Regions from separate parts of the Homo sapiens genome. Here region 2 is linked to region 1. Evidence: fine-mapped expression QTL. A gene starts in region 1. The other region holds a variant in brackets. All regions are shown on one strand. Distances are from middle to middle. Region 1 holds the start of CYP3A43 (cytochrome P450 family 3 subfamily A member 43). Region 2 holds the start of LOC124900245 (small nucleolar RNA SNORA40).

Evidence for each region. PIP is the estimated chance that this variant, and not a neighbour inherited with it, causes the effect.
Region 2: its variant is fine-mapped to the expression of CYP3A43 in skeletal muscle (GTEx, PIP above 0.99).

The regions. Positions count from the first base shown.
Region 1 is chr7:99,820,047-99,836,397 of GRCh38, reverse strand. It overlaps CYP3A43 (cytochrome P450 family 3 subfamily A member 43), which reads right to left and starts at 8,385. Exons shown (of 13, transcript NM_057095.3): 1 at 8,212-8,385. The coding sequence starts at 8,282. It also overlaps the pseudogene CYP3A137P.
Region 2 is chr7:99,937,444-99,953,794 of GRCh38, reverse strand. It overlaps LOC124900245 (small nucleolar RNA SNORA40), which reads right to left and starts at 1,762; the gene lies at 1,637-1,762. RefSeq lists enhancers at 7,269-8,124, 8,982-9,837. The variant G/ATG (reference allele first, on the strand shown) is at 10,602.

The sequences.
Region 1 (16,351 bases):
GTTGGCCAGACATTACCTCAGGAACTGGAATGTTCAAGGGAGGGAGGTAACATGGAGGCAATAAATAACAACAGAAACTCTGATGGCAATAATTACATTTTATAGCAGGATTTTAAGGAATCAGAGAGACCAATGGGGTTCAGGAGGATATTTATTAATTATTTAGGTACACTGGGCCAGTCAGATTAACATCCAAAGGACTGAGCCTCACTTTCTTCCAAGCCTGACTTTTCGGGTGCTCCTGACTCTGCTTCCTGCCTTATTCTGACCAAAGACAGATATACTGGCACACATGGGGATGGACATTCCCTTTCCTCAGGTGGGGCCTGAATAATTGATTTCGGCTGATCTTTGGGGATTCCTGCAAGCTCTGCTCTAGTTACATCTCGGAAGCTGACTAGTCTATGCACAGCCGAAGCTAAGAGTACCATCTCTGGATAAGTAAATGTGGATACAATTTACAAGCCTAGTTATAATTCTGTCAGTACTGATTGTTCTGTTGTTACGTTATTACTGCAAATGCTGCAAATGTCTATGCCCAGAGGAAGGTTTGCCATTCCCACGTGTAGTGTAAGCATGTTTCTATTACATACGCTAATGTTGTTACCATTTCTGCCTACACTAAAAGGGGAGAAATCTCTAGAAGGATGCCCACACTGTGTACACACTACCTGGGTAAGGAATACCATAGTCAAAACTCTACTGTACCATAACTACTATGAATGTGCAGGAACCAAGTTAGAAACCTGCACATACAACCAGACCACCTATTCAGTCTGTGACCCAGGAAATAATCAGCTATATGTATGTTATGACCCTAAGCTCTCACCCTATGAATTCTGGCTTGAGGTACATGTTAAATCAGAGGGAGAAAAAGAAGGAGAGCTTATAGCTCAAACCAAAGAAGCCCTTCCCCTCTATAACAGGCCTATTTCCTTGTATTTTGATGCCTACCATACCGCATATGTTCATAATCCTAAAAAACCAGAAGCAGTCTGCAATGGTTTGACACGAGAGGCTTATCAGCAGCAGTCCTAAACATCTGTACAGAGAATGACAAATCGGATGCCCAGACTGTAACATTAAGTGGTCTACACTGACACAACACCAACACCTATATTCAGGGAAGACTGTTCTGCTAAGTAGTATGTCAACCAAACCAGATCGTAAGACAAAGACATGCAATCCTTTAAATTTTACTATCTTAAAGCCAGAGCTACCTTTTTGGTCTACAGGACAGACAGCACTATTAAGAGTTGATAGGCAAGGAGCAGGCCTTAGAATTCCACTACTGATTGTCAAAAAGACTAGAAGAACTCAGATGTGTCCAACCCCACAATTCTGGGTTCATAAGTCATTCTATAAGCATTTTGATCAGCCGGTGCCCGAGCTTCCCCCATCAACCAAAAACTTATTTGCTCAACTAGCTGAAAACATAGCTGGCAGCTTAGGAATTTCCTCATGCTATGTATGTGGAGGAACTAATATGGGGGACCAGTGGCCATGGGAGGCAAAGGAATTAATGCCACAAAATAACTTCACTTCGCTTAACCCTACCAGTGAACCAACAGCCTCAACCAGTGTTTGGTTGTTAAAAACCTCCATAATTGGAAAGTACTGTATTGCCCAATGAGGAAAGGCTTTCACAGGGGCAGTAGGAGAAACAATCTGCCTAGGGCAACAGTATTATGATGAGACTAAAAACAAAACTCTATTGAAGAAATGCCCAGAACAACTCCTACTTACAAGATCAAAACCCTTTCCCTCCACTGTCTATTCTAAGCCGCACTTGGCATCGGCTAGAGGCTCCAAATGCTTAGAAAGCACCCTCTGGCCTATATTGGACCTGTGGAGCACAGGCATATCAGCTGCTGACTAAATGGACAGGGGAATGTGTGTTAGAAACAATCAAGCCATCCTTCTTTCTAATTCCTCTAAAGCCAGGGGAACTCTTAGGATATCCAGTTTATGATGAAAATAAAAGAACTAGAAGAGGCATAATCACAAAAATAAACACAAATATCAAAAAAGATGTGGACATAGGAGACTGGAAAGATAACAAATGGCCTCCTGAAAGAATCATTAAATACTATAGGCCAGCTACCTAGGTGCAAGAAAGGTCATGGGGGTACCGTACCCCCATCTATATGCTCAACTGCATCATAAGGTTGCGGGCAGTCCTTGAAATTATAACCAATAAAACATCAAGGGCACTAGATTTATTGGCAATACAAGCAACACAAATGAGAAATGCTATATATCAAAATAGGCTGGCTTTAGATTTCCTCTTAGCCTCAGAAGGAAGAGTATGTGAAAAATTTAATTTAACCAATTGTTGCTTAGAAATCGATGATAATGGCCTAGCTGTCATGAAAATCACAGCTAGAATGTGCAAGATGGCACATGTTCTAGTTCAGACTTGGTCCAGGTGGTCCCTGGATTCCTTATTTGGAGGATGGTTGTCAGCCTTTGGAGAATTCAAAACCCTCATTAGTGAGTTCTTGCTTATTTTTGGCATTTGCCTCATCCTCCCTTGCCTTTTACCCCTGTTTATTAGGAGTATTCAGTCAACTATAGAGGCAATAGTAGCCTGACACGCTACCGCACAGTTGTGGCATTAACCAGATATCAGCTGCTGCCGGTAGAAGAAAAAGCTCAGCTCCGCGAGGAGGTGGCAAATAGTGGTGCTTTCTATTAACACTTCTGTTGTAAAAAGCACCAAAGGGGACAATGGAACAGGAATTAAAAGAAATTAAAGAGTGCGTAAGCAGAAACTGAGTTGTATATGAAAAAAACCCAACTTCCCCTGAAAAAGAGAAAGAGCTGGAGTCTTTTAAAAACTAACTGCCTGTTTTTCTGAGGCTAGTGAGCCTTATCTCTCCTCCCTTCCCAGGCATTGCAAAGACCCTGTTTCCCTAGCTGTGCAGCTGCAAGGTCACTAGACAGATAAACTCAAGTCACAAAACGTGTTTTTCCTTGAAATGTAAGAAATGATGTAATGCATTTCTCAATTGAATAACTGTGTTTGTTTCTTACTTCTCTAGTATGCTTCCCTCTCCACAGATCTCCCCCCTCCCACGAAATGCTTAAAAGGTAACTAAACTCTTTGTTCAGAGCTCAGTCCTCTGGATGTTAATCCGACTGGGCTGGTGCACCTAAATAATTAATAAATATCCTCCTGAACCCCATCAGTCTCTCTGATTCCTTAAAATCCCACTACATTTCAATCCTCATCTTTTTTGCTGCCTCCTCTGTGAGACCCCAAAAAGTCACAATGATTAACTAAAAGCAGCTGAAGTCTGCATGATCCCAGTGCTAGAGTGAATGCTTAATAAATGTTCCCAAATTTGAGTGCCCTTAAGAGGTTCAGACTGGAATTCTTCCAGGGCATTTCATTCACGTATGTCTATTTAGTTAATTGATTCTTTCCTGATTTGGAAATTCTCTTTCTAGGTGTATTAGTCCATTTTCACACTGCTATAAAGAACTACCTGAGACTGGGTAATTTATAAAGAAAAGAGGCTTAATTGACTCACAGTTCTCCATGGCTGGGGAGGCCTCAGGAAACTTAAAATCATGGTGGAAGGTGAAGGGGAAGCAAAGCATGTATTACATGGAGGCAGGAGAGAGAGAAAGACAGAGAGAGAGAGAAGAGGTGTCACACTTTTTTTTTCTTGTTTTGTTGTTTTGTTTTTTTTTCTATTATTATTATACTTTAAGTTTTAGGGTACATGTGCACAACGTGCAGGTTTGTTACATATGTATATATGTGCCATGTTGGTGTGCTGCACCCATTAACTCATCATTTAGCATTAGGTATATCTCCTAATGCTATCCCTCCCCCCTCCCCCCACCCCACAACAGTCCCCGGTGTGTGATGTTCCCCTTCCTGTGTCCATGTGTTCTCATTGTTCAATTCCCACCTATGAGTGAGAACATGCGGTGTTTGGTCGAGGTGCCACACTTTTAAAACCATCAGATCTTGTGAGAATTCATTCACTATCATGAGAACAGCATGGGTGAAAACACCCCTATGATCCAATTCCTCCCACCAGGTCCCTTCCTTGACACATAGGGATAACAATTCAAGATGAGATTTGGCTGGGGACACAGAGCCAAACCATATCACTAGGTGAGGTTTTTTTTTTTTATCTTTTGAACTAATAATGAGTTTGTGTATCACTACATCCATTGAATTACAGAGGGTTACTGAGGCCCTTTGCTGACACCTTCTTTCCTGTTTTCTCAGAGGTGTTTATGCTTTTCCTTCCCTCTAAACACTGACCTTGTTTTAGGATCTGGCCATCCTTAAACATTCCTGCACAGAGGAGCTCTGGAAGAATCATAGTGTTCTTATTTCTATGGAATGACAACCATATTCAAGGCTTCCACTGGCTTCATAGAAATGTGAGCACCTTCCAGCTACACCCAAATCTCTGTGGTCAGATGATTTGATTGATATAAACTACAGTAAATGTGATTGACCTATATGTTCTCTGAATGGCACTATGCAGAGGAACCAATGACTAAAGAATAAATTTCAAGGCCATTCCTCCTCTTGTGCAATCTGGCCCTCCAACTGGTGATCCTTACTTGATAAGCACAATGCCAGTCATGCTCACTTTTTTTTTTTCTCAAAATGATCAGTCACACAGAGTCAGTTTACTGCTTCTGTACATCAACTATCCTGCAGGAAAACCCATTAAGTCTGGTGCTCCTTATGGCAGGCCTGCCTGCAACTCATCTTTGATGGGTTATGTGTGAACTCCATCAATTGCAGGTTCTGGATCCTTGCAGAACTTCCCACTCTGGTGTTACTGAGGGATGGAAGACTGGAGGAAAAAGAGAGGCTGCATCCCGCCGATGTAACCATGCAACTGCTGGTGCCACAAAGTAGGCCCTATAAGGGTAAGTTAGGAAAGTGTGGCTGAAAATTATGGTATGCATAAATAGTTTTAAATGCCCCTTATGTGCTTTCAGCTGAAAGAGAGGTCTTCCAAAATTCAGGAACATTTCTGTTGATAGAAAAGTTTCACTGTGCTACATAGCATAAGTAACCATAAAATATTCCAGACAGTTGAATTAGAAACTTGATTTCTCTTCTTTATAGGTTAGCTTTTCTTAGATCCTAAATATTCAGTACAAATAAATAAATCTTATAAAATGTGATAAAGCTGAAAAATTGCATGAAGAGAATGTGTTTGAAGGACCCCACAGTGGCACCCTGGCCAGGCCCAGCTGTTAGCTTGGTTCCCTCTTTGGGGATCTTTTCCTACTCACACATCGAAAATAACCTCTTGGGTTTCCAGTTGTTTATAATCCATTATCTGCCCATGCTAAATTCTGGTTGTTAGTCTAGGTAGATCAAAACTCATAGTCAATCAGAAAGCATCCCCAGGATTGAATGATGTCAGTAAACACTCTTAGTAACAGAAATTGGAAGTTGAATGAAGAGGAGGTGGATAATGTTTATTTACTTCTTCAACGGATCTGTGTAACATCTGTAGGGTCAAGAGAACATTCCTCTATGGAGGTTTGATATTTGAGTCTGAGAAATGAACTAACAGTAGATCAATTAATAGGAGATAATCCTTATAAATTTATCTCATGAATATGCATGGGAGCCTTGAAAGATATGATACTCAAAGAATGGCCTGATGATTGAAGCTTAAATAGCATTCTGAGCTATAAAAATGTAGTATCTTCTGATGGGGAGTGGGTGACACAAGACATGAGAGAGTGAGGGAAGAAAAAGCATGATAAACAAAAGTCATCTTATTATAATGTCTGTCAGGCATCAGTGCTCCAAAGAACAAGTATTATCAACCTTAGTCTCCCTTTCTGTGAGCTAATATTATTTTTTTCTTTTTTTTTTCTTTTAGACTAAGTTTTGCTCTTGTTGTTCAGGCTAGAGTGCAATGGCGCAATCTTGGCTCACTGCAACCTCTGCCTCCAGGGTTCAGGCGATTCTCCTGCCTCAGCCTCCCGAGTAGCTGGGATTGCAGGCACCTGCCACCACACCCAGCTAATTTTTGTATATTTAGTAGAGACAGGGTTTCATCATGTTGACCAGGCTGGTCTTGAACTTCTGACCTCACGTGATCCACCCACCTCGGCTTTCCAAAGTGCTGGAATTACAGGTATGAGCCACCATGCCTGGCCCTGCTAAGATTCTTTTTCATGAGATTATAGGGAGGGGGCTCAAGACCATTGCTTTTTTTTAGGAGGATCTTCCTTTAGGTATGAGAACTTCAGAGAAAGCCCCTTCCTATATTTTGGGAGAAATAGCAGGGTTGGGAGACAGGAGAACATAAGAGTTAGCTTGGTTCTGAAGACTTTCTGAGACCTTTCAATTTCCTTTGGTTCAAAGTCCTCAACATGCTTAAGTGCCATATTTTGGGGTTTCATTTTTGGAGCCCCAACTTTCCCCTGTCATAAACTTCCCTAGAAAATGTACATACTAAAGCTGAGTTGATGCTTGTGGAGAGGACAATTGAATTGGTAGCTGAGTCGCAAGGAATCACATTAAACCAGTATAAACCAGTCTCACATTCCTAGCAATGTCAATCCAGTTAAACAGCTGTGCCTCATTTCAGGAGGTGATGTTGCAGGTCTGCTGTCATGAAAGATAGGTCTGTATATGGTGCAGTTAAACAGGTACTTAATAAGAGGTCATTCTACCAAAGCAAAAGGAGACCAAAAGTTAATCATTTAGCAGACTAGTTTCTGAGTTCACAGGGCAGCCAGACAAAAAGATTTCTACATGTTGGTTTTGAAACAGCTCCAGTTGGAGTAGAGGTAGGCAATGGTGATCTGACAGATTTTTTTTCTCTCCTATAGCTCCTTAGGGCCAGATCTGAAAGACTTTAAGTTGTTGCAATTTCTCTGGAGTCTGCTCTATCACAAAGAATTCTGCAAAAATCACATTTCCTGCCTTTGTGGACCAAACCAATGTATTTCTTAAATGTATTTGATATCTCATGCCTCCCTAAAAGAATAAAACCAAGCTGCACCCTGACCACCTTGGGTACATGTTCTTAAGACCTCCTGAAGGCTGTGTCATGGGCCATGGTCACTCATATTTGGCCCAGAATAAATCTCTTCAAGTATTGTACAGAGTTTGGCTCTTTTTGTTGGCAGCATGTATTAACTCATTCTCTATTACAATTCCCCTGTCTTGATGAATGGGCTCTGTTGAGGCAGGGGGCAAGGTGAATCTCTTGGGTGGTTACAGTGAAAATCCATACAAAATTTTACATGCATATGTGCTGGAGGCCCACAATATATGAGACTAAAATAAGGACTGAATGAGTAAAGCTTAAATAGCATTGTAAGCTAAAAAGTAGGGAGTGGCTTCTGATAGGGAGTTTCTGACACAAGTTATGGGAAGGTGAAGGGAGAAAACACATGATGAACAAAGGTTATTTTATTGTGGAGATAAAGTCTCTCAGGTAGCAGTGCTCCAAAGAATAAGTATTATCAAACTTTTTCTCTTTTCCTGTGAATTAGTTTTCTGATTGATGAGATTATTTGGAGAGGCTCAAGACAATTGCATTCTTTTTGGAAGATCTTCCCTTAGTCAGATAAGAGAACTTCAGAGCAACCCTGCACTTCAGGAGGGAAAGAATGGGGGATGGGTAGACAGAAGAGGGTCAGAGATTCTGAAGACATTTGTGAAGTCTTTCAGTCTTCTTTAGTTCAAACTACTCAGTATGACAAAGTTTTATTTTTTTTTTTGAGACGGAGTCTTGCTCTGTCACCCAGGCTGGAATGCAGTGGTGCAATCTCCGCTCACTGAAACCTCTGCCTCCTGGGTTCAAGCGATTCTCCTGCCTCAGCCTCCCAAGTAGCTGGGATTACAGGTGTGTGCCACCATGCCTGACTAATTTTTGTATTTTTAGTAGAGAAGGGGTTTCACCATGTTGGTCTGGCTGGTCTTGAACTCCTGACCTTGTGATTGGCCTGCCTCCACCTCCCAAGTGCTGAGATTACAGGTGTGAGCCACCGCACCCAGACTAAATTTTACATTTTCAAATGTTGTATTAGGAGTCCTAACATATTAATAATATTTTATGTGTTCACAGTATTTGGCACTTAGGTAACTTCCCCTCCGTTATCTCTTTTATCTTCAAAACAAATAAGAAAAAGATGGGCCCAATTAGCACTTCAGGTCTTAGAGTTAAGAGCAAACATGCCTGCATAGTTACTCACATATAGAGGAGTACCAGGCTGGTAGCCACAAGAACCCATGTTTCCATGGCAAAGTTTGGAATGAGATCCATCACCAGTTTTCTTTTTCAGCTCTGTCTTCTGAGTTTTTCTTTCAGCTGTGTGCTGCTCTTTGCTGGGCTGTGCATATAGAGCTTTGTTTCTCTGCCCAGAGGTGATTTAGTTAATGTTAACAGCGATATTTATGTGCTGGAGAAGGAGGTGGGTCTACAGCGGCAGCCAGTAGAAAAGCCACTTATGCTACTCCTCATATGGAGGGATTTGGGTACCCTTTTCAAATTGACAATTGGCAAATAATTATGGCTGTCCTTATTTTGGCCTCCTTTGATTTCCTATTCTGTGAACAATCAGTAAACAAATCAGTCACTGCTATTGGTAAGCCCAAAGGTTATAGATTCTCAGGAACCTAAAGAAAAATACTTCTGCAAGAACATCTGCCCAGCAACTGCCTGTCCAACCTCAAACTGATGTCAGTCTTGTTATTGATCTTTATAGCCAAGGATAATCATTCCAAAACAAATATGTAATCCTTCTCATTATTTTTTTAAACTTTGTCTTACTTTACCTACCTGAATAAGCACATAGTTTACCTTGGCACGCATATTCCCATTGCAATGCTTTATTCCCAAATAAAAATAATTCTTTTTAGAAAGCCTATCTCTGTTTGTTATCTAGGTTGCCAAATCATGCCTCCAGGTAAACAGACAAGAAGGACTCCCTGTGCCTCAAAAGCAAAAACAAACCCAAGAGGCCATGGCAGGTTTAGGTGATGGTCATGTTCTCTGTGTTCTTAGTAAGTGTTGCAAAACCTATTTTTCTGTAGCCAAGTCAAATAACATTTTCTGAAAAAATCTGTACCTGGGAATTTTCCAACTGCTCACCAACAGATCATGTGGTAAGAACTAACTGACCACCTAGGAACAGCCAATTAAGAGACATGTGACTTGGGGCTTAAAGGCTGTCTAATCAAGACTCTTTTCTTCACTCCTCTGACTCCTCTATCCTGCTCTGTGGTTTTTGACTTTATAGCTCTCCACCTCCGAGGCTGCATCTCCTCAATCTGCAGACTGTGTTTTATAGAAAATGAAGCTCTCCCTCTGTCCTCCACAGATCCCACAATCTTTACTCATATTTCCTGGTGATGAGGAAGGGATCAAAATTGGCTCTCAAGATCCTCTCCCTTGTCATCTGGACTAATCAATGCATTGGCACCAGCAAGAGTCCTCTAAGCTCAGTTATCTTCCTGGCCTGGCTGTTTTGTGGAAAAATCAGTAAATCCTCTTACATCCAAGATCTCACATTTAGGATGAGGTCTTGAGGTCTTTATTTTTTTCAGGGAACCTGCCCTTCTGGCTCTATGGCTACCCACTTGTGGGGTATGCTTGCACTTGGAGGGGCATGCCCATGTTTCTTGGGGTGCATTCATGCTGCATCAAGCAAGTTCATGCCTCACAGGATACTCCATGCTTCAGTGTTGCAAGGACTATCGCATTTTATTTGCCCTTGAAGGGACCCCTTCCTAAGGTGAGGGCTATGCATAACCTAGGTCCTAAGGCCATGGTCTCTAAGGCCTGCCATCGGGTAATTCGGTGGCTCTGTCTCTGATCAATCACTATCAGGTACTCTGGCAGTTTTTCAAGTTTAAAATTTAAAGGTAAAGGCTCGACAGAAATGGATGTGAGAGATACACCTAAATTGAACTCCGAAGCATGCAATGAGGATAAGAGGAGTCTGGACTTCTCAAAGACAGTAAGAGGCTTTCTTTCAATCTGCATTTTTGAAAGTTTCAAACACAATTGGGACTTTGGCTGTGTTTTACTAGGAGACTAACCTGAAGAGTTAACCCATGTCTCAGAAAATCTGAAAAACTTGAAGACCCTAAAATGGAGAGTCCCATATCTTCCTGCTGCTGCACTTGCATTCTACCTCCACTTTTCCCTTTTTACCATCACTGTCTTTGTCTGGAACATTGCAGGGACCTGGCAACTTGGTACCAGCAGGGGCCATTGAGCCCCTGGCTCCTTCATGATGATTGAAAACTGGGTGGGTCTCTCATGAGTTTTGGACTTCCCACTTGATTGACAGCTGTCAGTTTTGTTCAGCTAGTTGTTCTTACCCCTGGATAAAAGGGGGTGAAAGAAAGTCTCTTTCTTTGAGACTTACTGTTTCTCAAGAAGGGGGAATCACTCTGTATTTCTCCTCCATAAACATATGAATGAATATGTATGCTATTTCTCCCATTAATCTCCTTTGTGGGTGATTTTTTTTGTTGTTAACAAACCTTCAGAGGAGAAAGGACAAACATTTTTCTTGGCCTCAGCAGTTCTGTCCCTATGAGCAGGATACCAAAGCCACTCTGTTCTTTCAGAAGCCTCAGTGAAGGGAGCCCAAGCACTTGTAAGTCAGCAGAAAAGTAAGAATTTCTTTTTTTTTCTTTTTCTTTTTTTGACAGAGTCTCATTTTATTACCCAGGCTGGAATGTAGTGGTGTGATCTTGGCTCACTGCAATCTCCGCCTCCTGGGCTCAAGTGATCCTTCTATCTCAGTCTCCCAAGTAGCTGGGACTACAGGCACATGCCTCCATGTCTGGCTGAGAAAAGTAAGAATTTCTTTCCAGACAAGCTCCTGGCCTTTCTTTCTGGGAGATCCACTTGGGCAGATGTTAAGAATTGCTCTTTGTCTCCTCTGCAAAATCTTAATAAATAGGAGAAAAGGATTTGTGTTACTAGTGCTGGGTGCAGCAACTCTAGGGTACTCTCTAGTACTTTCTCTTATGAATACTCACATCGTTTGATCCCCTTTTCCTCTAGAAATAGTCTTTTCCTTTGTTCCTGTATTTCTGTGCTGTTCTGTCATAAAAGGGGCTACAGGAGTGTAGAACATGGGCCTGAAACCCCTATAAGCCCACTTGTTGGAGCTGGCTCTGCGGACTGAGCAGCTGGTGCTTCTGAAGAACACACCTGTTGTTCTACACATGTCCAGCTCTCGGGGGAGTTTCTCTTAAGAAGCCCCATCCCTATGGGTCTTTTGCTTCCCTAACCCTTGTGACTTGGTTAGTCCTGGGAAAGTCCAATCCCCGGAGAACCTACCCAGTGTCACATATCAACAGGCCTGAACTTACTGGTTTTGGTGTCACTCAAAAGGGTACCTTCAGTTTTAAAAAATCAAAGCCTAAAATGTTTATAAAGGATAGATCCTCAGGTAAAATAGACTGACTTCTTTTTCAGAATTATTCATAGTACAGCCAAACATTAAAATGCTTTCTTTGGCTAGGTAAGGAGGCTCACGCCTGTAATCCCAGCACTTTGGGAGGCTGAGGCAGGTGACTCACTTGAGGCCGGGAGTTCAATATCAGCCTGGCCAACATGATGAAACCCCATGTCTATTAAAAATACAAACATTAGCTGGGCATGGTAGCGCATGCCTGTAATACCAGCTACTGGGGTGGCTGAGGTGATCCAGAGGATCACCTGAGCCCGAGAGGCAGAGGTTGCAGTGAGCTGACATCACACCACTGCACTCCAGCCTGGGAGACAGAGATAGACTGTTTCAAAAAAGAGGGAAAAAAAGCTTTCATCACTCTATTTAAGAGCTCCATCCTGAATTCAGTAATCTAATCAAGAAATTTCCATAAAAAGATAAGAAAATTATGGAGAAGACATCACAATAATGTTATAGGATCCTTGAGGTGTTGCTTTTATGGCCTAAAACCTCTGGCCAGTGGCACCTTTGCCCAAGTTTTGCTCGGACTTGCTGGGCTTCTTCCACCCACTTGGGTTGGCAAGCTGCACACAGTCCACACTACCAGCCTGGATCCCATGCCTGCCAAGGGTGAGTTAGGAATGGAGCCATGAGGGGTGTGTGAATGAATGTGGGGTCAGGCCACTGCACAGTCAGACACTACAGCCGCTGCAGTGACAGGCAGCTCCAGGTGCCGGCACAGGCACTGGCTCTCTGTGAGGCTGTGGCTGGACCAGGTGCACTGCAAGCAGTTTCCCCAGCCAGCACTGGGGAATGCAGTGGTTACTGCAAACTTGGAGACACCAGGCACTGCAGGATACCAAAGAGTCACAACCCTGTTTTGGGGAGCTTCCAGGTCTGGGCTCCCTGAAGGACTGTGGCTCTTCTCTCCTTCTCTTTGCCTGCAACGTGGTGAGCAAGGGGCATGTTTCAGCCCTGTTTATGTTATAGCTGTTTTACCTCTGCCATTCAGTGGGTCCTGAGTTCTTGTCCTTCGACCAGGAAGAATGAGGTATGCAGACAGGTGGAGGGAAAGCAAGATGAAGAGGAGCATTATTGAGCAATAGAACAGCTCACAGGAGACCCACAAAGGGTAGCTACTTTCCACAGTCAGGGTGTCCCGATCAGTGTTCAGCTCCTGGCAGAGAAGACACCCTGGGTTGGGAGGCTCCTCTCTTCAGGTAGGTCATCCTGTCATCTCTGCAGCTCTCAGCAGAGAGGGGGTTTTGGAGTGGGTTGCTCCTCTCTGCAGCTGGTAGTCTGCATGTCTCTGCGGGTCTCTGAGGCTCTCAGCAGAGAGGAGGCCCTAGAGTGGGTAGCCCCTCTCTGCTGCTGGTTGTCTAAATGTCTCTTGCTATCAGCAGAGAGGGTAGCTCATTTCTGCAGCTGGTCCACCTGATGTCTGCTCAGCTCTAGCAGAGCCTGGGGCTTTTATGGGCCCTAGAGGGGAGGAAGTGTGCACTGATCGGTCCTTGGGCAGCCATGGAAGGGCTGGAAAAAGAATCACAACTTCCCAGTCTGGTCAATGGGATTGGCAGCCCAGCCACCAGCCTTCAGGCCCTCCCTGACCTGAAGGTGGGGCCTCACTGGGGACCCACCTACTTCTACCTGGGAATCTGTCTGCCTCCTGCTTCCATTCTTGGCACCAGGGCTCAGCCTCACTTTGCTATGAGATTGGAGAGGGTGCTGACAGCAGGGAGAAGCCAGGGAGCAGGAGCAGGCACTTTGGAGCCTGTGAGGGTAGGGGGGCCTTCCTGGGCCCCCAAGAGTGCAGGGATGCCTGAGTCTGCAGCTGGTGGGTGGCTGCAGCTGTGCAGGGTAGGGGGGATGGGGGTGAGGAAAGGTGGGGTGGGTTGTAGGGGTGGGTGAGGGAGGATTTCTGCCTGCTCCATGGAGCTGGAGGCCTGGGTCTGCAGCTGTGGTTTGGGTGGCTGCAGCAGCACCCAGGGAGCTCCTGCCCCAACTTGGGCAGGGCTCCATGGAGTGTGCAGCCCCGCCCACCTCCCTGCTGCAGCCAGCGTAATGGCAGTGGCAGGCTGTCTGGAGCAGCCACTGCCATCAATAACCTTTGTACACTTGTTCCCAGTTATAGAATTTATGCAAATAGATCTATAAAAATAAATGTACTGACCACTTTAGGACAAATATTAGAGAGACCACAAGAAACTTTGCAGGACAACCAGAGTCTCTAAATTTCTTAGCTTAAATGGTTTTAACAAAATGCTCAAGTTTTATACAGCTAATTGCTACAAGTCTGTAACTAAAACCTAGATTATAGTAGCTCAGTGCATATAACTTACAGATAAGTCTATTTTGTAACCTTGCCTTTCATGACAAAAGTCTTTTGACTTTTGTTTTTTGGCTCTTATATTACTTAAAAAAGATTTTAAGGATTGATGAATGCCTTCCCACCTCTATTCCTGTCTGGCCTAGAACATATAAATCAGCGATTAGTCTTTTGGCTTTAAGTCCTTTGGCCATAAGAGCCCCATGGAGGGACAGGGTGGACTTGGGGCAGACAGCCACACCATTACAGCAATGATGAGACCAAATAAAAGTCTGCCATTGATGTTGGCTCTGGAAAATCTTGGCCCAAATAAAGGAGAATGTAAACCAAAAACAAAATCCCAAGCCCCCTCCACCAAATAAACAGACCCACCGTTGGCTAAGTGGACCCCAGAGGAACCTGAAAAACTGAATTCCAGGGCATGAGGAAAAGGGAGGTCCAGCATGCCTCATTATACCCCCTCCATTGCTCACTGTCATTAGACCTTCTTTCCTAAAGGTGAAAAAGAAAGCAGCCCCTTCAAAAGATTCCACACCAATATTGTCAGTTATGAGCTTATCCTTCCAGGTACAGGGTAAGGATAAGATGAGATTAATCCTTCCCTCACCCTTCCCTGAGATATCTACTTCCTCTATTACTTTTTCTTTAAATGTTCACCTTATCATATGACAAGGCACTAACTAAAGTCTCACAAGTATGTAATCACTCATCTCATAACACCCCCCCACCATTTTAAAGGAAAATGTATAAATATTAAATCTCTGAGAACCTCTTTGGAAAAAAACCAGCCACAGATGCATGTGTGACTTACATTTTTCCTGGGCATGCACTTAAGCTGGCTCAATAATCCTCGGTGATTGAGACTTATGCTTCAGTCACTCATTTTGGTGAAGGTTGAGATGACAAAAGCCCTCATGGACTTGAGCCTCTTAAGACTAACTCCCCTAAGAGCTGGCATGGTCAGACAAAGAGAATGCTACTTTCTACTTCATGTCATGGGTCCCTGGCCTTTTTGACTAGCAGCCAGATGGGAACCAAAAATCAGACCCCCAGGTAACAGAGACCAGAGAGAGATGTTCTCACTTGGCAACAAAGCCAATTTCTCAGGACATACAAATAGACAAAAGGAAGATCTCATTTGATTTTTTTCTGAGAGATACACTGCAAAGTTTGCCTAAACAGATGCTGGTCTGCTGAGAAATATGAAGTCACCAGTCTGCTTGGTGGGCTTAAATGACAGGCTTATAAAAAGACCTTATGCCCATGTTCTGCCCTACAATTCTCCTCTTTCTGACAAATGACAACAAGACAAAGGAAAGCAAAGACCATCTCTGAAGGGGCAGGGACCAGAAATGCAGAATACTCATAGCAAAAATAAAAACACTAGATGTATACCAAGAACAAGTTTACAAAAAGGTTTTCTACTACTAATCTAAGTTTGGAAAGAAACATGAGACTAGTAGTGATATTACCACTTGTTCAACCTGGTTCCACAAGCAGAGATCCAGGAGACAGACTGGGTAAGGATTCCTACCTTTCTCCAGCTTCATCAGGTCTCAGGGTCTCTCAACTGTAGCTTCAGAAGCTGCGGAGTGACTTTATCTCCTGGTTGTCTCACCAAAACTGTAGGAGGTGGGGAGAGAAAACTTCAGTTCCTCTGGAGGCTTAATGTTTGAGTCTGAGAACCTGACAATGGATTGATTAACAGCACCTGTCATCTCAGTTACTCGGGAGGCTGAGGCGGGAGGATGATTTGAGCCCTCAGGAGGCTGAGGTGGGAGGATGATTTGAGCCCAGTTGTTCTAGGCTGCAGTGAGCTATGATTGCATCACTGCACTCCAGCCTGGGTCACAGAGCCAGACTCTGTCTCAAAAAAAATGCATACACATTTATGAAATGCATACACACTGGAGACTCACAATATATAAGACTAAATAATGACCAGGTGGTTGAAGCTTAAATAGCATTGTGACTTACTAAAAATTTAAAGACTTCTGGTGGGGAGTTGGTGACACAAGCTATGGAAGGATAGGGGAGAAAATGCATGATGAACAAAGGTTATTTTATTATGGAGATAAAGTGTGTCAGGTAGCAGTGCTCCAAAGAATAAGTATTATCAACTTTCTACTTCTTTCCTGTAAGTTAATATTCTGTTTGTTGATATTATTTGGAGGTGCTAAAGACAATTGCATTCTTTCTGGCAGGTCTTTCCTTAGTCAGATAAAGGAACTTCAGAGAAAGCCCCTCTCTGCACTTTTGGAGGGAAAGTATGGGAGGCAGGAGAAGGTCAGAGAGACCTTAGTTCTGAGGCCATTTCTGAGATCCTCCAGTCCCCTTTAGTTCAAAGTACTCAGCTTGCCACAGTGTCCTATTTTCAAGTGTTTTCTTCTGAGCCCCAACAGATCAGTAATGATAATTTATGTTTGTAGCATTCAATGCTTAAGCAACTTCCCCTCCATTATGTCTTTCATCTTCAAAACAAATAAGAAAAATAGGCCTGATTAGCACTAAAAGTCTAAAGTTACAGAGCAGATGGCCTGGACAGTTATTCACAGGTAGAGGAGCACCAGGCTGGTAGCCAGGAGAACACACATT
Region 2 (16,351 bases), 120 kb before region 1:
GTGTATTTGATCTTGCATCACATCAGGAAAAAGCCCAGTAATCTATTTCATCATGGGGTGTGGAGAAGTTGCTGGAACCATTTCTAGACACAGATTTTGGTTCTCCAGAGGCCAGCAAGTTAGCTTCACTAAGCTTCGGGGCCCACAGTGGGAAGAGATGTCCTGCTGAGGCTCAGCGTTGACTTCACTCTTGTGGAGCAAAGCTGTAGGAACTAAGGGCTTTATGCTAATTAAAAGATGAGGCCAGGTGCAGTGGCTCATACCTGTAATGGGGTCTTGCTATATTGCCCAGGCTGGTCTCGAACTCCTGGGTTCAAGCCATCCTCCCACCTCAGCCTCCTGAATCACTGGGATTAAAAGTGTGAGCCACTGTGCCCAGCCTCCCTTTTAATAGAACTGGTGCTTAATCCACAGCTCTCCTGTCAGCCCACAGTTCTTGAATTTTGGCCTCTTTTATGTCCACATGAATGTAAATATACTTCAGAATTTCCACCCAGAATCTTTGGAATCTAATTTCTTCAATCATTTTACTTTAGAGTCATTTTTAGGGTAAGTGAATCTGCCTGGTTTTCAACTTGACACCCTCTCTAAACGTGAATGAGTTCAAATCATATTCGTTCCTGAGGAATCACACTCAAGCATAGTACAAATCTGTGGGATATGCCATTACAACTCTAGGAATCATGTTCTCAAGGTAAAAGCCTTTAAGAAAAGCTGTCTTGACATATCATGTAAGCATGACAATGGAATACTAAACCAACATAGCTGAGATTTTCCTTATGTCCTATGCTTTTAAATGATCAACCCTACAGTCCTGGAACCAACCTTTATGGTTATCAATACCTCCATTATTTTAAACTATCTCAGGTATCATATTCCTTCTTTTTTTTTTTTTTTTGAGACGGAGCCTCTCACTGTCACCCAGGCTGGAGTGCAGTGGCGCAATCTCGGCTCATTGCAAGCTCCACCTCCAATGGAATACTAAATCAACATAGCTGAGATTTTCCTTATGTCCTATGCTTTTAAATGATCAACCCTACAGTCCTGGAACCAACCTTTATGGTTATCAATACCTCCATTATTTTAAACTATCTCAGGTATCATATTCCTTCTTTTTTTTTTTTTTTTTGAGACGGAGCCTCTCACTGTCACCCAGGCTGGAGTGCAGGGGCGCAATCTCGGCTCATTGCAAGCTCCACCTCCAATGGAATACTAAATCAACATAGCTGAGATTTTCCTTATGTCCTATGCTTTTAAATGATCAACCCTACAGTCCTGGAACCAACCTTTATGGTTATCAATACCTCCATTATTTTAAACTATCTCAGGTATCATATTCCTTCTTTTTTTTTTTTTTTTGAGACGGAGCCTCTCACTGTCACCCAGGCTGGAGTGCAGTGGCGCAATCTCGGCTCATTGCAAGCTCCACCTCCTGGGTTCACGCCATTCTCCTGCCTCAGCCTCCCGAGTAGCTGGGACTACAGGCACCCGCCACGACCCCCGGCTAATTTTTTGTATTTTTAGTAGTGCCGGGGTTTCACCATGTTAACCAGGATGGTCTCGATCTCCTGACCTCGTGATCCACCCGCCTCGGCCTCCCAAAGTGCTAGGTTTACAGGTGTGAGCCACCATGCCTAGCTTTCCTTCTTATATGTATCAAAACTCATACTGAAAAATGAGTTCTGGGTTACAAAAGAGGGTTTATTTTTTGCACCTGCCTTTGAATCAGTCCTTAAGCTTAACCTTTAACTTCCAAGGAACTACTTTTTTTTTTTTTTTTTTTTAGATAGAGTCTCGCTCTGTCACCCAGGCTGGAGTGCAATGATGCAATCTCGGCTCACTGCAACCTTCGTCTCTTGGGTTCAAGTGATTCTCCTGTCTCAGCCTCCTGAGTAGCTGGGATTGCAGGCATGTGCCACCATGCCCTGCTAACTTTTGTATTTTTTGTAGAGACAGGGTTTCTCCATGCTGGTCAGGCTGGTCACGAACTCCTGACCTCAGGTGATCCACCTGCCTCAGCCTCCCAAAGTGCTGGGATTACAGGCATGAGCCACCGTGCCAGGCCCCATCCCTGGTTATTCTTATTCAGTAAAATTTGCAACCTCCTAGGAAGAAAGGATTTTGAAAACAAAACTCTTTTTTAAAACTTTTATTTTAGGTTTGGGGGTACGTGTGAAGATTTGTTACATAGGTAAACATGTGTCATCGTGGTTTGTTGTATATATTATTTCATCACCCAGGTATTAAGCCCAGTACCCAACAGTTGTCTTTTCTGCTCCTCTCCCTCCTCCCACCCTCAAGCAGACCCCAGTGTCTGTTGTTTCCTTCTTTGTGTTCATAAGTTCTCATCATTTAGCTCCCACTTATAAGTGAGAACGTGTGGTATTTGGTGTTCTGTTGCTGCATTAGTTTGCTAAGGATTATAGACTCCAGCTTCATCCATATTCCCTCAAAAGACATGATCTTGTTCTTTTTTATGGCTGCATAATATTTCATGGTGTATATGTACCACAGTTTCTTTAGCCAATCTGTCACTGATGGGCATTTAAGTTGGTTCCATGTCTTCACTGTTGGGAGCAAGCCCCCCAAAATCTGGCCATAATCTGGCCCCAAGACTGGTCATAAACAAAATCTCTGCAGCACTGTAACATGTTCATAATGGCCCTAACGCCCAAGCTGGAAGGTTGTGGGTTTACAGGAATGAAGGAATGAGGGCAAGGAACACTTGGCCTGCCCAGGGCGGAAAACCGCTTAAACGCATTCTCAAGCTGCAAACAATAGCATGAGCGATCTGTGTCTTAAGGACGTGTTCCTGCTGCAGTTAACTAGCCCAACCTATTCCTTTAATTTGGCCCATCCCTTTGTTTCTCATAATGGATACTTTTAGTTAATTTAATATCTACAGAAACAATGATAATAACTGGTTTGCTGTTACTAAATATGTGGGTAAATCTCTGTTTGGGGCTCTCAGTTCTGAAGGCTGTGAGACCCCTGATTTCCCACTTCACACCTCTATATTTCTGTGTGTGCATCTTTAACTCCTCTAGCGCCGCTGGGTTAGGGTCTCCCCAACCGAGCTGGTCTCGGCACTTCAGTATTGTAAATAGTGCTGCAATGAACACTCATGTGGATGTGTCTTTGTTTTTTTTTTTTTTGGAGACGGAGTCTAGCTCTGTCACCCGGGCTGGAGTACAGTGGTGCAATCTTGGCTCACTACAACCTCTGCCACCTGGGTTTAAATGATTCTCCTGCCTGGGCCTCCTGAGTAGCTGGGATTACAGGTGTGAGCCACTGTGCCCAGCTAACTTTTGTATTTTTAGTAGAGCCCAGGGTTTCATCATGTTGGCCAGGCTGGTCTTGAACTCCTGACCTCAGGTGATCTGCCTGCCTTGGCATCCCAAAGTGCTGGGATTACAGGCATGAGCTACCACGCCTGGCCCATGTGTCTTTATGGTAGAATGCTTTATGTTCCTCTGGGTATATACTCAGTAATGGGATTGCTGGGTCGAATGGTAGTTCTGCTTTTAGCTCTTTGAGGAATCGCCATATTGCTTCCCACAATGATTGAACTAATTTACATTCCCAGCAACAATGTGAAAATGTTCCCTTTTCTCTGCAACCTTGCCAGCATCTGTCATTTTTTGACTTTTTAATAATAGCCATTCTGACTGGTATGAGATGGTATCTCATTGTGGTTTTGATTTGCATTTCCCTAATGACCAGTGATGTTGAGTTTTTTCATATGTCTGTTGGCCGCCTGTATGTCTTCTTTTGGGAACTGTCTGTTCCTCTCCTTTGCCCACTTTTTCATGGGGTTGTTTGTTTTTCTCTCATAAATTTGTTTAAGTTCCTTATAGATGCTAGCTATTAGACCTTTGTCAGATGCACAGTTTGCAAATAAAACAAAACTCTTAATGTCTTCACTTGCCAGATATTTGTGCTTAGGTTGGTGTTTGAGTCTTAGGAGTAATATCATGTTTTGCCACAAGAAGGAGCCTATGAGTGGGCTGGAAGAGAAAAATCAGATTTGCAGCCGCTGAAGTCAGTAAACAGTTTCTTTGGATATATTGTAAATAGTAAGAGAACCAGACATGACATTCATAAGTATTCCAAAACCAAGTAAAATTATTTTAAAGCTCTAACGTTTTGCAACTTTTCTTCCCGTCTTAAGAGTTCATCTGCCCAGTCTAATGATTGTAGAATTCTTACTTCTAGTCTTTTTTTTTTTTTTTTGAGATGGAGTTTCACTCTTGCTGCCCAGGCTGGAGTGCAATGGTGCTATCTTGGCTCACTGCAACCTTCGCCTCCTGGGTTCAAGCCATTCTCCTGCCTCAGCTTCCCGAGCAGCCACAATTTCAGGGATGCGCCACCACACCCGGCTAATTTTGTATTTTTAGTAGAGTTGGGGTTTCTCCATGTTGGTCAGGCTGGTCTCGAACTTCTGACCTCAGGTGATCTGCCCACCTTGGCCTCCTAAAGCGCTGGGATTACAGGAGTGAGCCACTGTGCCTGGCCATCATTTATCTTACTTTTAGCATCCTCATCCCAAATTCCTGGTGTCCCCATCCCTACCATCCATTTGTAATAATTCTCCATTGTTTTCCTCTCCTTGAATCCCACTTTCTGAGATCAGTGCAACCTGGGCTTAGAGCTTCAACCTCCTCCATCTGATTTTTTAAAAGAGTAACTCCTAATAAGGATTTTACCCAATATAGTGAGCATTATGATTAATGACCCTGACTCTACAAAAAATAATTTAAAAAAATTAGTCAGGTGTGGTGGCGCATGCCTGTAGTCCCAGATACTCAGGGTGAGGTGGGAGGATTGCTTGAGTCCAGGAGTTTGAGATCACGGTGAGCTGTACTGCATCATCACATTCCAGCCTGGGCAACAGAGTGAGACCCTGTTTCTAAAACAATTAAGGTAAAATAAAAGAAATAACATGCACCTGGTACACAGTACTTAATAAATCCCGTCTACTGTAAATACCTAGTGCCCATCATCCCTGTAACTCATAACTTCTTCTTTCCCAGTTCCCCGTGCTTTAATCACTCCTGCTTAGGAGACAGTCCAGGCTACCTTCTTATCTCTCTTCCTGGAGCCAGATTCTCAGCATTTTGTTCTCTAATTCCACCCTTTACCCCTTATTGCATGCCTTGGTATCAGCACTTCACCTGGTCTGAGGAACCAGCATCTAGTCTTGCCCTGTGTCTGGTAGTCCATATGGCCTGTATGTATCACTTAGTCTGAGTCAGTTTCCACGTGTGTCAGCTGGATTAGTAGCTCCTTAGGGTTCCGTGTAGTTCTCACAGTCTGTGGCAAGGAAAACAACAATTTGTGAGTAGCTAGCATGGACTGCAAACTATGGGCTCTATTTACCAAGCAAGTTCTAAATGCTGAACATTGTCTTTGGCAAAGGGGTTTCAGGGAAGATCAAGAGGCACATCTTCCCTGCCCTCAGGAAACTCATATAGGCTGGTTTTGCTACACTGAATTCTCACAACTCATTGATGCAATGCAGCCTAGAATTAAGTTACTTGCTCATTGTCAAGCAGGTAGTGACTAGCAGAGCCACCATCCTGATTCTTTCTTAGTTTCTTTTTTTTTTTTTTGAGTTAGGGTCTCGCTCTGTCACTCAGGCTGGAGTGCAGTGGTGCCATCATAGCTCACTGCAGTCTCACTCCTGGGCTCAAGCGATCTTCCTGCCTCAGCCTCCTAAGCAGCAGGGACTGCAGGTGCACACCACCATGCCCAGCTAATTTTTAAATTTTTGTAGAGGTGGGAATCTTGCTCTTTTGCCCAGTCCGGTCTGGAACTCCTGGCCTCAAGCATCCTCCTGCCTTGGCTTCTCAAAGCACTGGAATTACAAGCATGAGCCACCATGTCCAGCCCTAAGTCTGATACCTTCTAAGAGGGATCATCCTCAGATGAGTTGGGTGTGGAGGTGAGAGGTCAGGGGTGCCTGGATAAGAAGTGACTCTGCTATCACTTCCTGTGTGAGCTGAGGCCTGGAGAGAAGATGAGAGAATGATGGGGAAGGAGGAAGCAGATGTGTTGTGGGGTTGGGAAATGGGGAAATGTCTGTGCATTTCTACTTTTACCTTTGATCTCTCCTTCAGGGCTTTGATATTTTCTTCCTGCTAATCCTCCTTTTCACACCTGCTTGGGGCTGCCCCATGAGCTTGTGAAAACAGCATGTTTCTACCTTCCAACCACAGTCCTCAGTGCATTGGCCCTCTCTCTCCTTGGCAGAGTCTACGATGTTTTTCAAGGTTACCATGAAGATTTCTTTCTTTTTTATTTAATTTTAATTTTATTTTTTTTTGAGATGGAGTTTCGCTCTTGTTGCTCAGGCTGGAGTGCAATGGCACGATCTCAGCTCACTGCAACCTCTGCCTCCCGGGTTCAAGCGATTCTCCTGCTTCAGCCTCCCAAGTAGCTGGGATTACAGGCATGTGCCACCATACCTGGCTAATTTTGTGTTTTTAGTACAGACAAGGTTTTTCCATGTTGGTCAGGCTGGTCTTGAACTCCTGACCTCAGGTAAGCCACCTGCCTTGGCCTCCCAAAGTGCTGGGATTACAGGCAGGAGCCACTGTGCTTGGCTTTATTTTATTTTTTAAGTTCCTGGGTACAAGTGTAGGATGTACAGGTTTGTTACATAGGTAAACGTGTGCCATGGTGGTTTGCTGCACGTATCAACCCATCACCTAGGTGTTAAACCCTGCATGCATTAGCTCTTTTTCCTAATGCTCTCCCCTAACCTACATCCTCCCCTGACAGGACCCAGTGTGTGTTGTTCCCCTCCCTGTGTCCATGTGTTCTCATTGTTCAGCTCCCAGTTATAAGTGAGAACATGCAGTGTTTGGTTTTCTATTCCTGCGTTAGTTTGCTGGGGATAATGGTTTTCCAGCTTCATCCATGTCCCTGCAAAGGACATGATCTCATTATTTTTTATGACTGCATAGTATTCCATGGTGTATATGTAGCATATTTTCTTTATTCAGTCTATCATCGATGAGCACTTGGGTTGATTCCATGTCTTTGCTATTGTGAATAGTGCTGCAATGAACATATATGTGCATGTATCTTTATAATAGAATTATTTATATTCCTTTGAGGTATATACCCAGTAATGGAATTGCTGGGTCAAATGGAATTTCTGGTTCTAAATCTTTGAGGAATCGCCACACTGTCTTCCACAATGGTTGAATTAATTCACATTCCCACAAGATTTCTTTCCTGACTTTCTGAACTTGGATCTTCTCCTATCCTCCATCCCCACCACCTGGCTCCAGGATCCCAGAGACTCAGCCTTCCTGCATTCAAAACCATAGTGGAAGAAGGCCTGATTGCTGGGGTGGGCAGTGGCCTGAAACCTGGGGAGGACTTCACTGGGCCTAAACATTCTGGTGTAGAGAAAGTCACTAAGTAAGGACTTGTGAAAATGTAGAGGACTTTGCGGTGGGGGTGAACTGCAGAGTCCTACTGTGGGGCAGCAAGAAGTCAAGAAGGAGGACCTGGCAACTGGGGTCAAGAGCTGCCCACATGCTCTTCATGTCCAGCCTTTTTTCTCCTGTCAGCTTTCTAGTGTTGCATGCTCATATGGGCAGAAAGACTTGCCATTATATGCTAGAAAGCACATGGTGGAGGCTGGGCGCGGTGGCTCACTCCTGTAATCCCAGCACTTCAGGAGGCTGAGGTGGGTGGATCACCTGAGGTCAGGAGTTTGAGACCAGCCTGGCCAACATGGTGAAACCCCATCTCTACTAAAATACAAAAAATTAGCTGGGCGTGGTGGCAGGCACCTGTAATCCCAGCTACTCGGGAGGCTGAGGCGGGAGAATCACTTGAACCTGGGAGGCAGAGGTTGCAGTGAGCTGAGATGGCACCACTGCACTCCAGCCTGGGTGACAGAGCTAGACTCTGTCTCCAAAATAAAAAAAAAAAAAAGAAAGAAAGAAAGTACAGGAAGGAGAATTTATTAGAAAATTCAGGCAGCCTGGGCAACATAGTGAGACCACGGCGCTACAAAAGAATACAAAAAAAAAAAAAAAAAAAAAGGCTGGGCGCAGTGGCTCAAGCCTGTAATCCCAGCACTGTGGGAGGCTGAGGAGGGTGGATCATGAGGTCAGGAGATCGAGACCATCCTGGCTAACACAGTGAAACCCCATCTCTACTAAAAATACAAAAAAAAAATTAGCTAGGCATGGTGGTGGGCGCCTGTAGTCCTAGCTACTCGGGAGGCTGAGGCAGGAGAATGACGTCAACCTGGGAGCGGAGCTTGCAGTGAGCTGAGATCACGCCACTGGACTCCAGCCTGGGTGACAGAGCTAGACTCCGTCTCAAAACAAACAAACAAACAAAAAAAAACCACACAAAAAAACAAAAAAAATTAGCCAAGCATGGTGGTGTACACCTGTTGTCCCAGCTACTCAGGAGGCTGAGGTGGGAGGATCACTTGAGCCTGGAGGTTGAGGTTGCAGTGACCTAAGATCGTGCTACTGCACTCCAGCCTGGATGATAAAGTGAGACCCTGTTTCACAAAGAAAAAGAAAAAGAGTTAAAAAAATCCAGGCATGAACAGGAAGGGATGAGCATGGAATAAAACCAGGATGCTGCCTCCGTACCACCAGTTCTTTGATTTCAACTTGTTGCTCAGTTGAATCATTGCCATACTGGTGAGAAAGAAATGTATTTGCTGACTGTTGGTCAATATTACAGATTTAAAACCTGTGCACTCTTAAGACCTCACCAGTTTATAGTTTTGTTTCTTCCAGATTTCTGCGGAAAGATGGGCCCAAGGCTGGCTTTGCTCCCTTTTCTCTAGGTCACACAGTATCCTAGGCCCTGTGCTGTTATATTTGACTCTGTGGAAGATGCTTTGTTTTCAGTTCTGAGCCTTTTCTTCTGCTGATTCCTTCTCAACCTTTGTTCCTTGTGTCGCTCACCCTCCCCCAAACCAGGTAGATGCACCCAGGTGTGGAAAAGAGGGAGGGAGAAGAAAGATCCCTTCTGTCATTGATACAGGAGCTAGAAAAAAATTATTTAGGCAGATAGTGAGGGTAAGAGAGTCCGTGGTAAGATTTCCCTTTAATGAAAAGCAGCCCCCAAATAATTTCTTTTCTAACAATAAGCAGCCTGAAAAATTAAGCTGCAAGCATAGATAAGCAAGCTAAAAGCTTGCATAGGTAAATGCCAACAGCTGTGCCAATAGAAAAGGGACACCTGGAAGCCAGGTATATTCAACATGGAGGTGCCCTCTTCCCTTTCCTTTGTCAACACGCTTGCAGTAAAAAAGCAGGCAACGTGGTGATGGCCAAGTAGAGACCCCATCTGCATAATAAAAGGTTAAGGTGAGATGGCCAACTTGTTGGTGCGCTATGCAAATGGCACACCTGGTCTGACTAATCTCTCGGGCCCTATGTAAATCAGACACTGCCTCCTCAAGCTTGTCTATAAAACCCCCCCCCCGTGCATTTCACCACAAAACCGGAAGACCCACTCGGAAGTCCCTCTCTCTCTGCAGGAGAGAGAGCTTTTCTTTTTTCTCTTTCTTTTGCCTATTAAACCTCCAATCTTAAACTCCTCCTTGTGCGTCTCCACCTTCTTGATTTCCTTGGCGTGAGGCAATGAATCTTGGGTATTACTCCAGACAAATGACGCCACTTCATCATCGTTCTTGGGGCACAGAGGTGCTGAGCTTCCACATTTCTCTTCGCTCCCTACTCTTGGGTGAGCCCTTCACCCTGGGTACCCTGTTGCCCCAGGCCTTGGCACGTGTTGTCAACGTATGGCTGTGGGAGGAGGCTGGTCTTGTCTGGTGGGAAGGAGAGAGACAAAGAGGGCATTGTTGATAGAAGAAGTGGAATGAGAGCTCCCTTTACCCTTGGGGGCTTCTTTTCTGGCATTAATCCTCAGAAAATAATTGTGAAAGAGAAGTTTGTCTTTGTGCTTTAGGGTGCTGTCAGAAGCTTAGAAATAATTAGGCAGAATCCCCATCCCCCCAATCCCCATCACCAACTTTAGTCTCCTCCCCCGATACCCACACTGACCCAGGGTTAGGGACATTTATAAATGGAGCCATTGAGGACTCAGGAGAAACTCATGCAACTGAAAAATGTCCCCTATTTCCTGGGTCCTAGGCAGCTCCCCACTTTCCACTCCCACTTCAGACATTTAGACAAGGACTTTGGTCACTCTGGCTAGACCATCTGTGTAACCCAGAATGGTGGGGTCACAACTCTTGGTTTCCAAGGATATAATCACATGTTGTGAGCAAAAATGTGCTGAACACACCTGACTCTGTGGCTTCTTCTTGAGAAGTGATTTTGCAGAGCGGGGAAGGGTCGACTCTGGAAACGTTTCATTTGTCTATTGGCCATTTGGATTTCTTCTGTGAAGTGCCTTTTCATGACTATCATCTATATTCTCTTAAGTTTGTCCTTGTTATTGATTTGTAGTTCTTTATATATCCCTGATAACAAGGCTTGCTTTTTCATGCTCTTTATATATATTTTTAAAAGCAGCTTTAGCAAAGTGTAACATACAAAAATCTGCACATAAAATGTAAAATGTGATGTTTTGACATATATATATAT[G/ATG]CACTGAAACCATCCCTATTAATTCCATTGTGATCAAAGACATATATTGTATCACTTAAATCCTTTTACATGTATCCAGGCTTATTTTATGGTGTAGAACATGATCTATCTTGGTAGATGTTCTGTGTGCTCTTGACAAGAATGTATTGTTGCGTAGAATGTTCTATTGTCAATTTTGTTGATTAGGTCAATTTGGCTTATAGTATTGTTCAAGCCTTCTATTTGTTTACTGATTTTCTGTCTACTTGTCCTATCAATTTTTGAGAGATGGGTGTTGGCTCCTTAACTATTTTGTGAATTTGTCTATTTCTCCATGTATTTCTATTAATTTTTGCTGTACGTATTTTGAAGCTCTGTTATTACGTGTGTAAACATTTAGGATTTGATAAATGGACTCATTTGTAACAATCAAATATCTTCTTTATCTCTGGTAATATTTTTTGCTCTGAAATCTACTTTGATATTAATATAGTCACTGTAGGTTACTTTTGATTAGTGTCAGCATGGTATATTTTCCATTATTTTACTTTTAACCTTGTACCTTTATAATTAAAGTGAGTTATCTTTGGGCAGCATACTGTTAGGTCTTGCTTTGTAAGTTAATATGTTAATCTCTGCCTATAAATTGGAATGGTTAGATCATTTATATTTAATGTGATGATTTGTATGGTTAGGTTTAAACCTCTCATGTTGCTATTTGTTTTCTATTTGTGCCATTTGTTTGATCTGTTCCCCCTTTCCTCTTTTTCTACCTTCTGTTGGATTGAGCATATATTTATATATAATTTTATTTTTACCTCCATGTTTGTATTATTAACTATAACCCTTTTTGGGTTATTTTAGGCTTATGGTTTATATCTTCATGTTATTAGTCTACTTCAATTGATATTATAGCACTCTTCACACATTGTAAGAACCTTACAGTATACTCCCATTTCTTCCCTCCTGGCTTTTATATAATTGTTACCATATATCTTACCTCAATATATGCTATAAACCCCATAATACATTGTTATCTTTTCGCTTTAAGTGAAAGATTATCTTTGTCTTTATCTTTAGAGATAAAGTGGGGAAGGGTTGACTCTGGAAACGTTTCATTTGTCCATTGGCCATTTGGATTTCTTCTGTGAAGTGCCTTTTCACGACTATCATCTATATTCTCTTAAGTTTGTCCTTGTTAATTATCTTTATCAATTATCTTTAAAACGATTTAAATAATAACAAAAATAATCTTTATATTTACCCTCATAGTTACCACTTCTGGTGTTCTTTATTCTCTAACGTAGATCCAGGTTTCTATCTGGTTTCAAATTCTTCTAGCTCAAAGGACTTCCTTTACCATTTATCATGGTGCATATATGTTTTTTCATTCACTCTGGAGATGAATTCTTCCAACTGTTATATATCTTAAAAAGTTTTAATTTTTGCCTCAGCTTTTGAAAAAAAATATTTTTGAGATAGGGTCTCCCTCTGTCACCCAGGCTGGAGTGCAGTGATGTGATCATAGCTTACTGCAACCTCCACCTCCCAGGCTCAAGCTGTCCTCCCACCTCAGCCTCCCAAGTAGCTGGACTACAGGCGTGTGCCACCACACCTGGATAATTTTTGTATTTTTTTGTTTGTAGAGACGGGGTTTCACCATGTTGCCCAGGCTGGTCTTGAATTCCCAAGCTTAAGCAATCTGCCCACTTCAGCCTCCCAAAGTGCTAAGATTACAGGTGTAAGCCACCGTACCTGGCCTGAAAAATATTTTTGCTGGGTATATAATTCTACATTGGCAATTTATTCCTTTGATTACTTTAAACATGTTTTTCCACTGTCTTCTAGCTTATATTGTTTCCAACAAGAAAGCTACTGTCATTCTTATCTACTGTTGGTGCCCTGTCTAGATGTCCTTTTCTGGGCTGGCATGCCCACTCACAGGCTGTTGTTAATGGTGGCTATTATTGGCTCATGAACTCTCTCCTTTTCTAAATAGATGGCTTGGCCGGGCATGGTGGCTCACGCCTGTAATCGCAGCACTTTGGGAGGCCAAGGCAGGCGGATCACGAGGTCAGGAGATCGAGACCATCCTGACTAACACGGTGAAACTCTGTCTCTACTAAAAAGACAAACAACTAGCCGGGCATGGTGGCAGGCGCCTGTAGTCCCAGCTACTCGGGAGGCTGAGGCAGGAGAATGGCGTGAACCCGGGAGGCGGAGCTTGCAGTGAGCCGAGATCATGCCACTGCACTCCAGCCTAGGTGACAGAGTGAGACTCCATCTCAAACAAAAAAAATAAAAATAAAAAAAAGAGATGGCTTCACCCGGGATAATATGATTTCTTCCTCTCCCCGATGGCATCCCAATGCCAATGACTGAATGTTATTGGAGTACAAAAGAACAGCCCTTTTACCTCAAGTGGATAAAATCTGTGGTATGATTTATGCTTCAGGGTCCCCTGTGGACAAGATCAAGTTCAAACCTTACCTGAGATCACATTTGGCACAGTTTTTTTTTTTTTTACATTACCTTTTCTGCTTCCTCTATTTCCTTAGAGATTTTTACTGGTGAGTCCAACCTAAAAAATCACATGTATTCAAGTCTCTTTTAAGTTCTGCTTCTAAGGAATCAAACCTAAGACAGTGGGTACCAGGAGCGGTCCTAGGAAGCACAACATAAGAATGGGATTCTAGGGCTGGGTTACTTGTCAGCCCTCTGGCAAGGGGGACAGCCATGTTGATGGCAGGCATAGTTTCTGACTTGCTTTAGCAGTGCAAGTGTTAAGACTTTTACTCGGAATAACTAGGCTAGGACACAGGTGGAATTAGATTCACTGGCTGATGTAATGTGTCTGGCATTTAAGAGATATAAGACAAATTGCAAGTATAAGGGCTATGGAGCCAGGTGTGGTGGCTCACGCCTGTAATCTTAGCACTTTGGGAGGCTGAGGCAGGTGGATCATCTGAGGTCAGGAGTTCAAGACCAGCCTGGCCAACATGGTGAAACCCCATCTCTACTAAAAAGTCAAAAATTAGCCAGGCATGGTGGTGGGCACCTGGAATCCCAGCTACTCGGGAGGCTGGGGCAGGAGAATCACTTGGCGGAGGTTGCAGTGAACTGAGATCACGCCATTGCACTCCAGCCTGGGTGACAAGAGTGAGACTCTGTCTCAAAAATAAAATAAAACAAAACAAAATAAAATAAAATAAAGGACTATGGAATTAGGTGGCTATTACTGAGCTTCAGTGATGCCTTAAAGAGAAAAAAATGAAAGGCTCAGGACAATAAGTAATCAATTTAAAGCAAAATATAAGAGTTACAATGCCTTCTTGGCAACATTTAAAGAGACCCTTATCTCTCGTTGCCTGAAGGCAGAGAGACCAGGCTGAATATTTAACTTTAAGAGTGGCATAACTACAGAGAAGTTCAAATTTTTCAGCCTAGGGAAGTTTCTAGTACCAAAACCAGGACCTCAATAGGAAAGAATAAGACCCTGAGACATGGGATGGTGATATTAGATAGATGCCCTTTGAGGTCCTTGGATCATCAGATTATTCTGGACCATTTGGACCTGCAGAAGTGGCTCACACTTTTTATTGGAAGATAGAGGCCCACTCTTGCTTGAAAACCTTGCAAAAGTCTTACACTAGACAAATTCATTGTAAGGAAATGCTGGCTCCCCTCAGGATGTGTTGCACCTCCCCCTTTGGCCACTAGACCCATAACAAAAATCAAATCTTAGCATGGCCCAACTGGGGAAGTACTTGACTTACTAAGGAGAGGGATGGATTAGATACTAAAGGAGCTTCAAGACTTGGACAACATGTGTCATCAGGAGCAAGGAAAATAAATCAGAGAGAAGATTCTGAAGATCCTGGATCAAAGGGAGGGGACTAAAAATAGAAAGCTGGATGTAGGAGTTTGTCAATATAGGGCATTCTTATGGGACACAGGATTTAACACCCTAGCAAGTTTATTCTTAGGAGGTTGATATGAAATGATACTGGGGTGGCTTTTGGAAAGCTGGAAAACAACAAGAGCTTCTATTAATAAAGTTGAGATGTCAGAACTCATATGGAAAATTGTGAGTAAAGGGTTCACAGTTCTCAGAGAAATGGATGTGGGAGAATAGATCTATAACAAAAGATTGGAAAATCCACCACCAGACTCTATTCCTTGGGAAGTCCTGGATAATACTCATTTTCACCAAAGAAATAATGAATGTGCTGGTGATGAGGAGTTTAGAAGCTGTAAGAATCTCAGTAGTGTTCATCCTCTGTAGACGGAGGCTGACAGCAGATGCCCTTATATACTGGATATACTGGTTCCCTAATAGCAATAGGAATGATAGGATTCTGAATCAGCAGAAGCTATTTGGCAGCACTTAATAATCAGAAGCAAAGTAGTTATTATTATTATAATAATCAGGAAGGTTGAAATTATGGCCAAAGGGCCTTGACCTTCAGGGATCTGTGGAGATGGCTAATAGAAAATAGTGTTTCCATGGAGAAAATATACGGTTGCAAATGCATCACATTTGCTATCAACAAACTCCAAGTAGGATAAACTCAAAGACATCCATACTTAGGTACATGATGATCAAACTGTCAAAAGTCAAAGACCAGATAAAACAACAACAACTTAAGAGAGAATCTTGAAAGTAGCAAGAGAAAAGCAACTCATTAAGGACAAAGGATCCTCAATAAGTTTAACAGCTGATATCTCCTCAAAACCATGGAGGCCAGAAGACACTGGAACGATATACTCAAAATGCAGAAAGAAAAGGGCTGTCAGTCAAGGATTCTACAACCAGCAAAAGTATCCTTCAAAAATGAAGGAGGAATTGAGACAATTCTAGATAATAAAAACTGAGAGAATTTATTATTAGCATAACTGCCCTACAGAAAATACTAAGAGAAGTCCTACAGACTGAAATGAAAGAATGCTAGTAAGAGATCATATGAAGAAATAAAGAACAGTTGCAAAGGTAATGACATAGGTAAACATAAAAGACATATACAAAACTGAAAGCTTTCCTCCTAGAAGAAGGAACAAGAGAAGGATGTGTGATCTTATCACACCTATTCAACAACACCTCTAGCTAGTACTGGCGGTTCTATTTAGGGCAATTAGGCAAGAAAAAAAGACATCTAGATTAGAAAGGAAGAAATAAAACTTTGTTTGAAAATGACATAATCTTGTGTAGAGAAAATCCTAAGGAACCCACAACAGCTTACTATAATTAATAAATTAGTTCAGCCACATCACAGTATACAAGATGAGTATATTAAAATCAATTCTATTTCTATACACTAGCAATAAACAATACAAAAAGGAGAATGAGAAAACAATTCAATTTACAATAGCATAAAGAAGAACAAAATACTTAGAAATAAATGTAATCAAGGAAGTGCCAGGCTTCTACACAGAAAACTTCAAGACATTGTTGAAAGAAATTAAAGAAAACATAAATAATATATATTCCATGCTTATGGATTAGAAGATTTAATGTTGTTAACATGGTGGTGCTCTCAAATTGATAAAAAAATTCATTGCAATCCTTATAAAAATTCCAGTTTCCTTTTTTGAAGAAATAGACAAACAGATCCTAAAATTCAAACAGAATTACAAAAGACCCAAAGTAGATAAAAAATATTGAAAAAGAAGAACAATATACATAAACATAAATTCAATCAGTGGAATAGAATTGAAAGCTGGGAAGCAAATTCTTAAATTTATGGCCAATTTATTTTTGATAAGAGTGTCAA